Homo sapiens: one gene and its partner. The protein of the gene in region 1 purifies or fractionates together with the protein of each later gene. This does not show direct contact. Each region holds a gene or a part of one and is shown in the gene's direction. Other genes may lie near its edges.

What was found. The genes of interacting proteins can lie anywhere in the genome.
Region 2: the proteins of ATP2C1 (region 1) and SLC7A2 fractionate together in Homo sapiens (co-fractionation; one large-scale study listed by BioGRID). This does not show direct contact.

Annotation. Positions count from the first base shown.
Region 1 is NC_000003.12:130,896,096-130,900,981, forward strand, and holds part of ATP2C1 (calcium-transporting ATPase type 2C member 1), read left to right. Parts: intron 1-4,886. UniProt on the Homo sapiens protein: ATP-driven pump that supplies the Golgi apparatus with Ca(2+) and Mn(2+) ions, both essential cofactors for processing and trafficking of newly synthesized proteins in the secretory pathway.
Region 2 is NC_000008.11:17,544,702-17,549,587, forward strand, and holds part of SLC7A2 (cationic amino acid transporter 2), read left to right. Parts: intron 1-3,976; coding exon 3,977-4,142; intron 4,143-4,886. UniProt on the Homo sapiens protein: Functions as a permease involved in the transport of the cationic amino acids (L-arginine, L-lysine, L-ornithine and L-homoarginine); the affinity for its substrates differs between isoforms created by alternative splicing.

The DNA of each region.
Region 1 (4,886 bases):
TATACTTGTTTCTTGGTAGAAACATCTTAAATAACTTCTAACATTTAATGTATGTTTATGAGCTTGTTTTCAGAATGGTACCAGATTTAAGAGGGTAGCCTAAAGTAGGTGGATTCTTTCATGTTGCTTTTGTTTCTTGATCTCTCAGGAGGAAGAGCATGAGTAATAAAGCCGATTCTCATTATCTACTGAGGTGGGAGGGGGTGGTTGTGAGATAGGAGAATGGTGCCTACTTGTGTCTGTCTCTGTATTTTGTGGCCAAATATGAATTTTGTGGTTTCATAGTAAAAGATTATACAGTTCTTAAAAACGTGTGGGGTTTTCTGTCCCGTTATTCTTGACCATCAAGAGACCATTTTTGTCAGTTTCTCCCTATCGTCACATTTTTTTTTATATATAAACAGTTTGAAGAAGAGCCTGTATATAGCCTAGAAATTTTCAAAAGTGACTGACCATATTAAACTACATAGATTGATACCTGTGCCTTTTTATTGTTCACTTGCCTTTTTGTAGTTTTCATCCTTCTTTGATATAGTGTAGTATTAACAATTTGGAGGTGTGAAACAAAAATGGATTCAAGTCTTGACTAACTTGTCTTGAACCACTTAAAGCTGTGTGATTTTAAGTAAATTACGTCACCTTTCTGAGCCTGTATTTCTTCATCTATAAATTGGGATTGATAATCTTTAACTCACAGAATTGAGAGGATTAAATGAGAAACCCTGTATAAATTCTCTTGTGAGGTAGGAATGATAACGTTTAAGAGCTTGAGTTGTGGTGGAACCATGCAGACTGATTTGAATGCTGGATTCGTCGCTTACCATTTGGCTTTGTGCATATTAAAGTTTTCTGTGCTTCCGTTTCTTCATAAAATAAAGATAATGATAGAACCTACCTTATGAGGTTGTTGTAAACATTCAAACAGTATCTGGCACATAGTAAGTGCTCGGTAAATGTTAATTATAAATTGCCTAGCTGAATGTTTGATACATACTAATAGGCCACCTGGCATTAATATTGTCATGACAGTTAAATGTTGGAAGGGGGAACAGTAGTAGCCAAATGCTCAAAATGAAGTTGTCATTGTTAGTTGAGGGATAAGTGGAGTTAGGTAAGGAATTTTCTATGGCATTAGTGCTTTTAAGCCTACAGAAAAAGTTAGGGCTCTACCAAGAAGCCAGGGTCCAGTACAGAAAGAGACAGGTTTGGATTTGAAGCCCGACAAGTAATGTTTTCCTCTCCTGAAAAATCTGACAAGTTACTAGGCTTCTAAGCTTTCTCAGCCTCTAAGTTATCTCATCTGTAAATGAGATAATGCCCTCTTGCAAAGTTGATGTGAGTAATAAATGAAGCCGCCAGAGCAATGTTTGACATACAGTTAACTTGGATGAATTGAGTGATGCTGCTGTTCCCTAGTAAGAGTATCCTCCAGTAGGTATGCAGGTAGTTACATTTGTGGGTGTGAACAGTGTAGAATTGATAGTGTTTCCCTAGAGCATCAGCATGAAGGTTTCTTAGGTAGCTTACAGTGGTGTGGGGAGGAAATGGTTTCATCCATGTGTTGGTTCCTTCAGCAATGGTGGTATTTTCTTTGGCACTTCGGTTTAGATTCTTCTGGACTTTTTTCCTAGGGCCCATTTAAACTTTCTCAGCAAAGCTTGACCAATTTTTAGCTGTAGACTCCAGGATGTTTCATGAACACTTTCTGCTTGTCACTAGGAACGTTTAAAATGTTAATTTCCTGGAATTTTTGGACTACTTAACATTCAGTCGTGAGTTAGGATTTTATCCAGATCCTTTGGAATTTGTTTTTACATGTTTATCACAAATCTAAACAGATCCCGCTTAGGCATCTTGAGATGCACAAGTAAACAGCTCTTACCTGATTTTTAAAAGTTAATTGCATGTTTAAAGTGATAGCTTACTAGAAAAGATATGTCTAGCTGGAGAAGCTTGCACATAGGTTTTCCTTTCTAGTAATGGATTTATTTTTTGGAATAAATTTGGCCTTTCCCATAGAAAATTCAGTGTGACTTTAATACACATGAAACTTTAATATAGCCTTAAATGTTTGACTAGTGGATAGAAATGTAATAGTCTTCAGGATTTCAGGACATGGTTAATTTAAGATTATAGACAGAGCTAATAGGTGTAGAGAACAATGCCCCAATCTTTTTTGTTTGAAAATGGTTGTATTTACACTTTACTTTTAAAAGCAGTTTCTTAATTCAATTTCAAATTGTTAATCAGCTAGGAATGTCTCAAGAAAAAATTGCATTACTATAGTTGGAGAAGCTATAGGGAAAAAGGGATGAGAAGCCACCTTAATTTTATTCCTTTAACTGAAAATAGGAAACCAGGTTATAAAAATATATCTTTGGGTGTGGGAAATATAGTTTATGTTGTTTGCAGTTTTGTCCATAAAATGATAGTCTTAATTAGTACTCTGAAAAAGAGTTGAAACTAAAAGAGATTATATATATGACATTTTGTAAACTGTAGTAATTTAAGCCAGAGGATGCTGTAGAGAGTACTTGTATGCAATAACCTTCTGACAGTTGGATTCCAAATACTTGATTTGTCTTCATATTTTTGTCATTCATTTAAAGTCAGCAGAATTCAGGTCTGTTAACGCAAAGCATTATGAAACAAAATAGTTTCCTAGGGAACACACCCCTAGGGGCCCAGGACTGATTTTGGAGATCTTAGTTAGCCATGATCTGTTTTGCAAGGTTAAATTTTGTTTTAAAGGTGCCAGGAACACTGTGGCTTGATGGTAAAGTTAGCATGAATTTTAAATTACACCGTTGTTACATGTAGCATCTTAAAATATCTTAAGGATCAGTTCAAGAGGTCCCCTCACATTTACTTTGTTGAAACAAATTCTTTTTAATAATGGTTTCAGGCATCAGTTGTGACAAGGTTATCTTTATGCTTTTCATGTAGACAAATGTTGGTAAAAGGCAGTAAAGGGTGCATCCTGAGGTTAATGCCATCATTTCATGAAAGAAAGGATCTCTCAAAAAAAAGGCTAAATTGATAATTTCCTCTTGGATGTATATGACTGCTACTTATATGCATTTGTTAATACAGTTGACCCTTGAACAATGTGGGGGTTGGGGTGCTGACCCACCATGCAGTTGAAAATCTGCATGTAACTTTTAACTCTCTGAAAACTAAACTACTAATAGTCTCTACTGTTGCCTGGAAGCCTCACTGATAACATAAACAGTCAATTAACACATACTTTGTATGCTATATGTATTATATACTGTATTCTTGCAATAAAGTAGAGAAAAAAACTTACCAAGAAAATTATGAGGAGGAGAAAATATATTTATAATTCATTAAGCAGAAGTGGATCACTATAAAGGTCTTCATCCTCATTGTCTTCGCTTTGAGTAGGCTGAAGAAAAGGAGGGGTTGGTCTTGCTGTCTCGGGTGACAGAAGCAAATCTGAGTATAAGTAGACCTTTACAGTTGAAACTCATGTTGTTAAAGAGTCAACTGTGTATCTTCTGTCTTCAGGCTTTAAGTTGCTACGACAAAAGTATAAATCGTAGAATTACAAATAAATTACACCAATTGTGTTAAATTAGGTTGGTTTAGACTAAACCTGTGATGTGTTTAGAAAAAGTTTGAATGAAATGTTGAAAAGCTGTCCTAGATTATAGACAGAAGACAGTAATAGTCGGGGTCAGAAGCATTATCTTAAGATGGCCGTAACTGGGTGTCTGATTCAATTTCTATCTCTGCTTTTTTTAATTCTGCTATAGGTATTAGAGAATGTGTGAATTGGAATTATTTAATATACCTGTTAGTTGTAATTGCTTTCTTAAGTAAAGGCCTTTTGGTTTGACATTTGGTCATTTCGTAAACATGCTGACCTAAACTCGTGTCCCTCCCTCAGAAGGAAATACGTTAATTTAGTATGACATCCTTTTTTTTCCCTTTGTGCTTATTTATTTATTTATTTTTTTGAGATGGAGTCTCACTCTGTAACCCAGGCTGGGCTGGGACACAGTAGCATCATTATAGCTCACCAAAGCCCCTAACTCCTGGACTAATGCGATCTCCCTGCCTTAGCCTCCTGAGTAGCTGGGATTATAAGCACACATCACTATACCCAGCTAATTTCTTAATTTTTTTAAAGACGAGGTCTTGATATATTGCCCATGCTGGTCTTGAACTCCTGGACTCAAGCAGTCTTATTGCCTTGGCCTCCCAAATTGTTGGAATTATAGGCATGAGCCACCGTGCCCAGCTTTAGTATGACATTCTTTATTCTTTTAGAAAGCTTTGAGATATTGATGCATCCTTATAGAAATTACTTTCATTTATTTATTTACTTACTTAAAACAGCTTGATAAAGTTGGAAAAAGCAGGACCCTAAATAATAAATATATTTGCCATCAGCCTTTTATAGGAAAACTCAGAAATAATAAGTGGAAATATTTAGGATGTCACTCATCAGACTTTTTTTTTGAATATGTAAATGTGTTTTTTTGAAAATTTAAACACGCAAAGTAAAAATTAAAAGTTTTGGTTAAGTTGTGAATTTCAGAAATTTATCTTGGTTATGGTGTCCTGAAGTTAAAAAGAATAGAGCATTAGTACATTAGTACATAAACGTTCTGTTATTCTCTGCCTAAGGGCAAGATCCAACTTTGAACCAGGTCCTGGATTTCCTCTCATCTTAAATCGGAGCCTTTTTCATTTGTAGTATAAATAAATTAGCCTTTTGATGCTGTGATTTTATTTGTATATGTTATATATGAGATTTATATCTCTCTTTGTATGCAGGCATTTCACTAGATTTTGTTTGGCCATCTATTTTTAGTGTTTCCCTAGCAGCATGTTTGCTTTACCTGCCTTCATCTAGGTTT
Region 2 (4,886 bases), on another chromosome or scaffold:
TGAGATTAGTATATTTACACATTTATGTCACTGTTAGACATCTGTGGGGTTTATCACTGGCTGGAATCACATTTTAACCTAAGTCTAAATTGTGTGCAATGGTAAAAATAGCACTTCTGAGTAAATGGCACCTGGTACACACTAAATAATAGGATGAGGACATTGATTTTTTAAATCGTTAATTGCAGGTTTGCAGGAATAGCGGTGGTTTCAGTAAGGAAGAATGTGTAATTTCTTGGCATTATTTCATCTTGCTAGATACAACTAGGGATATTTGCAATTTCTAGAAGAATTTCTGTTTTTCTGACATGGCTTCATCTATATAATGTAGGCCTTTGATTGTAAAGGAAGCAAGTTCTAATCACCTGTCATTTTGTAATGTCGACATTATATAGGCAAACATACTTAGTACTAGGATTTTCCAGTTTTTGTCAGTATTGTAGCATAGTGGTTTTAGGAGGCACAGGAATTCTAATAACCACATTTCAATCCTGCTGTGCCACTCACTCTGCTTTAGAACATAGAACAATTTATTTAATCTTTCCCTCACTCGTACATAAAATGAGGGCATCAGTGTCTGCCTCCTATAGCCTTCTCGTTTGGTTCCTAGTAAGCACTCACGTGGTGGCTGATTTTATTTCATAGGCATAGCTAATCCCTGCTCTGTCTCCTTATATTTGTTTTAACTATTTGAACATTTTCTTTTTTTTTTTTTTTTTTTTTTTTTGAGATGGAGTCTGACTCTGTCGCCCAGGCTGGAGTACAGTGGTACTGCAACCTCCGTCTCCCGGGTGCAAGCGATTCTTCTGCCTCAGCCTCCTGAGTAGCTGGGACTACAGGTGCGCGCCACCGCACCTGGCTGATTTTTGTATTTTTAGTAGAGACGGGGTTTCACTATGTTGGCCAGGCTGGTCTCAAACTCCTGACCTCAAGTGATCCCCCTGCCTCAGCCTCCCAAAGTGCTGGGATTACAGGCGTGAGCCACCATGCCTGGCCACGTTTTCTCTTTTGAGTCTCCTTCTTACCTGCAGTCCTGCTTATGTCCATCAAGGATTGCCCTAAGAGTAAAAACCATGTCTGTTCCTACTTCTTCCTTGCTTTACCCTGGGCAGTCTGCCTCATGCTTTCTTGTCCGACCTTATCTCTGTTTTCTCCCTTGTTAGAAGAGTGAGACAGAAATATCTTTCTCTTTTGAAATGTTTACTCAAAAATTATATAATTTTAAAAATAGCTTTACCCTTTAAAAAGTGAGTCATTAATCAAATGTTTTACATACGGATAGGGATAAGAACATGAACAAAGTGCGTAGATCTAAAATGTTTTGCATTTTGAGTCTAATGTCAAGAGAAGTTGCACCAATTGTTTTTCAACAAAGAATTGATTTTTGTTTTGGTTTCTAAGCAGTCTAGCTTAGAAATAGAAACCAGTCTAGCGTTAAATTATTTCCATCATATTTTATTTAGGGATCATTTTAATGAACTTAAAATATTCAACTTTAATCTCTAAATGACGAAGAGCATGTAGCTGTGACACAATTAGAACATAGTTTAATTCCACAGCAAGACTCAGGTCTTGGCTCATTTGTCCTGTGTTCATTCACCATCATATCTTTCCTTTAATTATAGGTGAAGCTTATGTTTTAACTTTGTTCTTAGAATCTCTGAAGATCAAAACCTCCTATGTAAATCCCTATTCATATCGTAACACCAAATGTCTTTTTACGTGAAGCCGTTGTTTTACTAAAGATACACGGGAAGTGTATGCTCTGCTTAGATGAGATATTCATTGGTGTCTAATCTTCCGGTGGGAGATGAGACCTCAGAGTAGACAGTGCATATATGCTGTTGGGAAACTTACATGAAATATAAAGGTGGCTTTGTTATTCTCTGAGGTATATAGCAGTGGTTCCTAACCTAACTTACAATTACAGAGTCAGGAATTGTGTTGACCATACAGCTTTCCTTTATATGGTTAATATATGATTCTAGGAATTACACAGGTAGAAATAAAATTCAAGTTCTTTCATCTCTGCTTGGAAAAATTTGCTTTTTTGATGGTGGGTGGTATAGATACGGGGAACAAACAACTAAATCTGTGGCATCATCTTTTCACAGCAATCATTTGCTCAATGGTAAAAGATAAACTTTCTTAGGTCCGTAATTCAAATCTTATACCAGATGGGTTAAAGATATACATATGATAAATATAATTAGAAAAATACTAGAAGGAAGCAAAGTAGGTGTTTTGGGTTAATGTTTAAGAGATTTTTTTCAAGGTAGAAACTAAAAAGGGAAAATTTATTTTTCAGTCTGATAACTTTTCTACATGTACATAATCTGTTGTACATGGCAGGTAGAGAGCTTATGGCATTAATATATAAATAAATTTTATAAATCAATGTATTAGTCCATTTTCATACTGCTATGAAGAAATACCCAAGACTTGGTAATTTATGAAGAAAAAGAGGTTTAATGGACTCACAGTTCCACATGGTTGGGGAGGCCTCACAGTCATGGTGGAAGGTGACCGAGTAGGGAAAGAACGTCTCACGGGGTGTCAGGCAAGAGAGCATGTGCAGGGGAACTGCCCTTTATAAAACCATCAGATCTCATGAGGTGTATTCAGTATCATGAGAACAGCACAGAAAACCTGCCCCCATGATTCAGTTACCTCCCACTGGGTCCCTCCCATGATACATGGGGATTATGGGAGTTACAATTCAAGATGAGATTTGGGTGGGGACACAGCCAAATCATATAATCAATATGAATAGAATATCCTAATAGAAAAAATAGATACTTTAAATTGAGCCAAACTTTCCAGAGAATATTTTGATAATAGGAACCAACAGTCCATATCTTTGATGCAGTATTACTTTGCAGAAAATTGTTGTATAGAAGTAAATGGAAAGTGTAGAAAGATATTTATAAAAGAATTATTATGTCAGTGCTATTTATAATTGTAACAAACAAAGAGTGATCTAATTGTCTATAAATAAGGGATGAATTAAAGTGTAGTACCTCAATATAGTCGAAGATTATGCAGCTGTTAAAAATGAGATTATATATTTACTGGCACAAAAGAGTGTGTGTGTGTGTGTGTGTGTGTGTGTGTGTGTGTGTTTACAAAATTTGGGAGGGAAAAGCACGGTTGATCTTTTTATATTTTTTTCTGTGTCTTCAAAGTACTTGAATAGAAATTGATCACTTTTGCAATCAGAATATACAGCTATTAAAATGAGAATAGGTTTAACAAAGTACTTTTTTGGCACAATTGAAGTATTATCTTTGTTTATGTATTTTGTGTGCATGGCAGACAAATGTTTTAGCGTTTACTTTTTAAAAGTTCGCAACTGGGCCGGGCATTGTGGCTTAAGTGCCTGTAATTCCAGTACTTTGGGAGGCTGAGGCAGGCAGATCACTTGAGGTCTGGAGTTCTAGACTAGCCTGGCCAGCATGGCGAAACCCCAACCCTACGAAAAATACAAAAATTAGCCAGACATGGTGGCACACACCTGTAGTCCCAGCTACTCAGGTGGCTGAGGTGAGAGAATTGTTTGAGCACAGGTGGCAGAGGTTGCAGTGAGCCGAGATCATACCACTGCACTTCTGCCAGGGAAACAGAGCGAGACTCTGTCTCAAAAAAAGAAAAAATAGTTTGCAACCATTTACCTTGAAATTAGATGTTACTTTACCTATCACTGGCAAAGATGGCCAAAGTTACTAGATTTATGTTTCTTAGAAAGTGTAGTGTCTTCTATGAGCATGACCTGCCTCCGAAATTGAGTTGGTTGCATTCAGAAGACATTTCAGAATTAGGTAATTAACTAATGAGTAAGAACTAGCAGTAGAGGTAGATAGATGGAAATTAAAGACATGAATGCTGGTGAAATAATATCCTAAAGTCATGTATTTGCCTCAAAATGCTATTGCCTTTCCTAAAGCTAAATAAAAATTGAAATGCCCTTTTTCCATAGGTCTTTTGTCTTTTGGAGTAAAAGAGTCTGCTTGGGTGAATAAAGTCTTCACAGCTGTTAATATTCTCGTCCTTCTGTTTGTGATGGTTGCTGGGTTTGTGAAAGGAAATGTGGCAAACTGGAAGATTAGTGAAGAGTTTCTCAAAAATATATCAGCAAGTGCCAGGTAAAATATTTGAGGTTTTTTTTTTTCTCCTTCTTGTTTAAGAAAATATTTTAAGTGGGTGTATTAGTTCATTTTTACTCTGCTAATAAAGACATACCCATGACTGGGTAATTTATAAGGAAAAAGAGATTTAATGGACTCACAGTTCCACATGGCTGGGGAAGCCTCACAATCGTGGCGGAAGGTGAAAGGCATGTCTCACATGGTGGCAGACAAGAGGAGAGAACTTGTGCAGGGAAACTCTCCCTTATAAAACCATCAGCTCTTGTGAGACCCACTCACCATCACAAGAACAGCACAGGAAAGACCTGCCCCCATGATTCAACCACCTCCCACTGGGTCCCTGCCACAACACATGGGAACTGTGGGAGCCACAATCCAAGATGAGATTGGGTGGGGACACAGCCAAACCATACCAGAAGGCATATGTGGGTTTTCTTCTAGAGCAGTGGTTCTCAAATTTCTTGCTTCTGAGACCCTTCTGAGAGACTGTTCCATTCCAAGACCCCTCTTCCCAGATTCCCTTCAAACTTAAAGGTATAGGTATGCTCCTTTTGGAGCAACTGTGTGAACCCATGCAGCTGCTGGTTCCCAGCCTCAAGCTCTGCTCCGGGTTTAGGGAAAGAGCAAGGGAAGATCCTAACCATTGGAAAAACTTGATCTTTTCCCCCCAGCAGTTTGCCACCACTAAATAACAATGAGTATTTTTGAGTCCTGCATCCTTTAGTTCTTCCTTCAGGACCA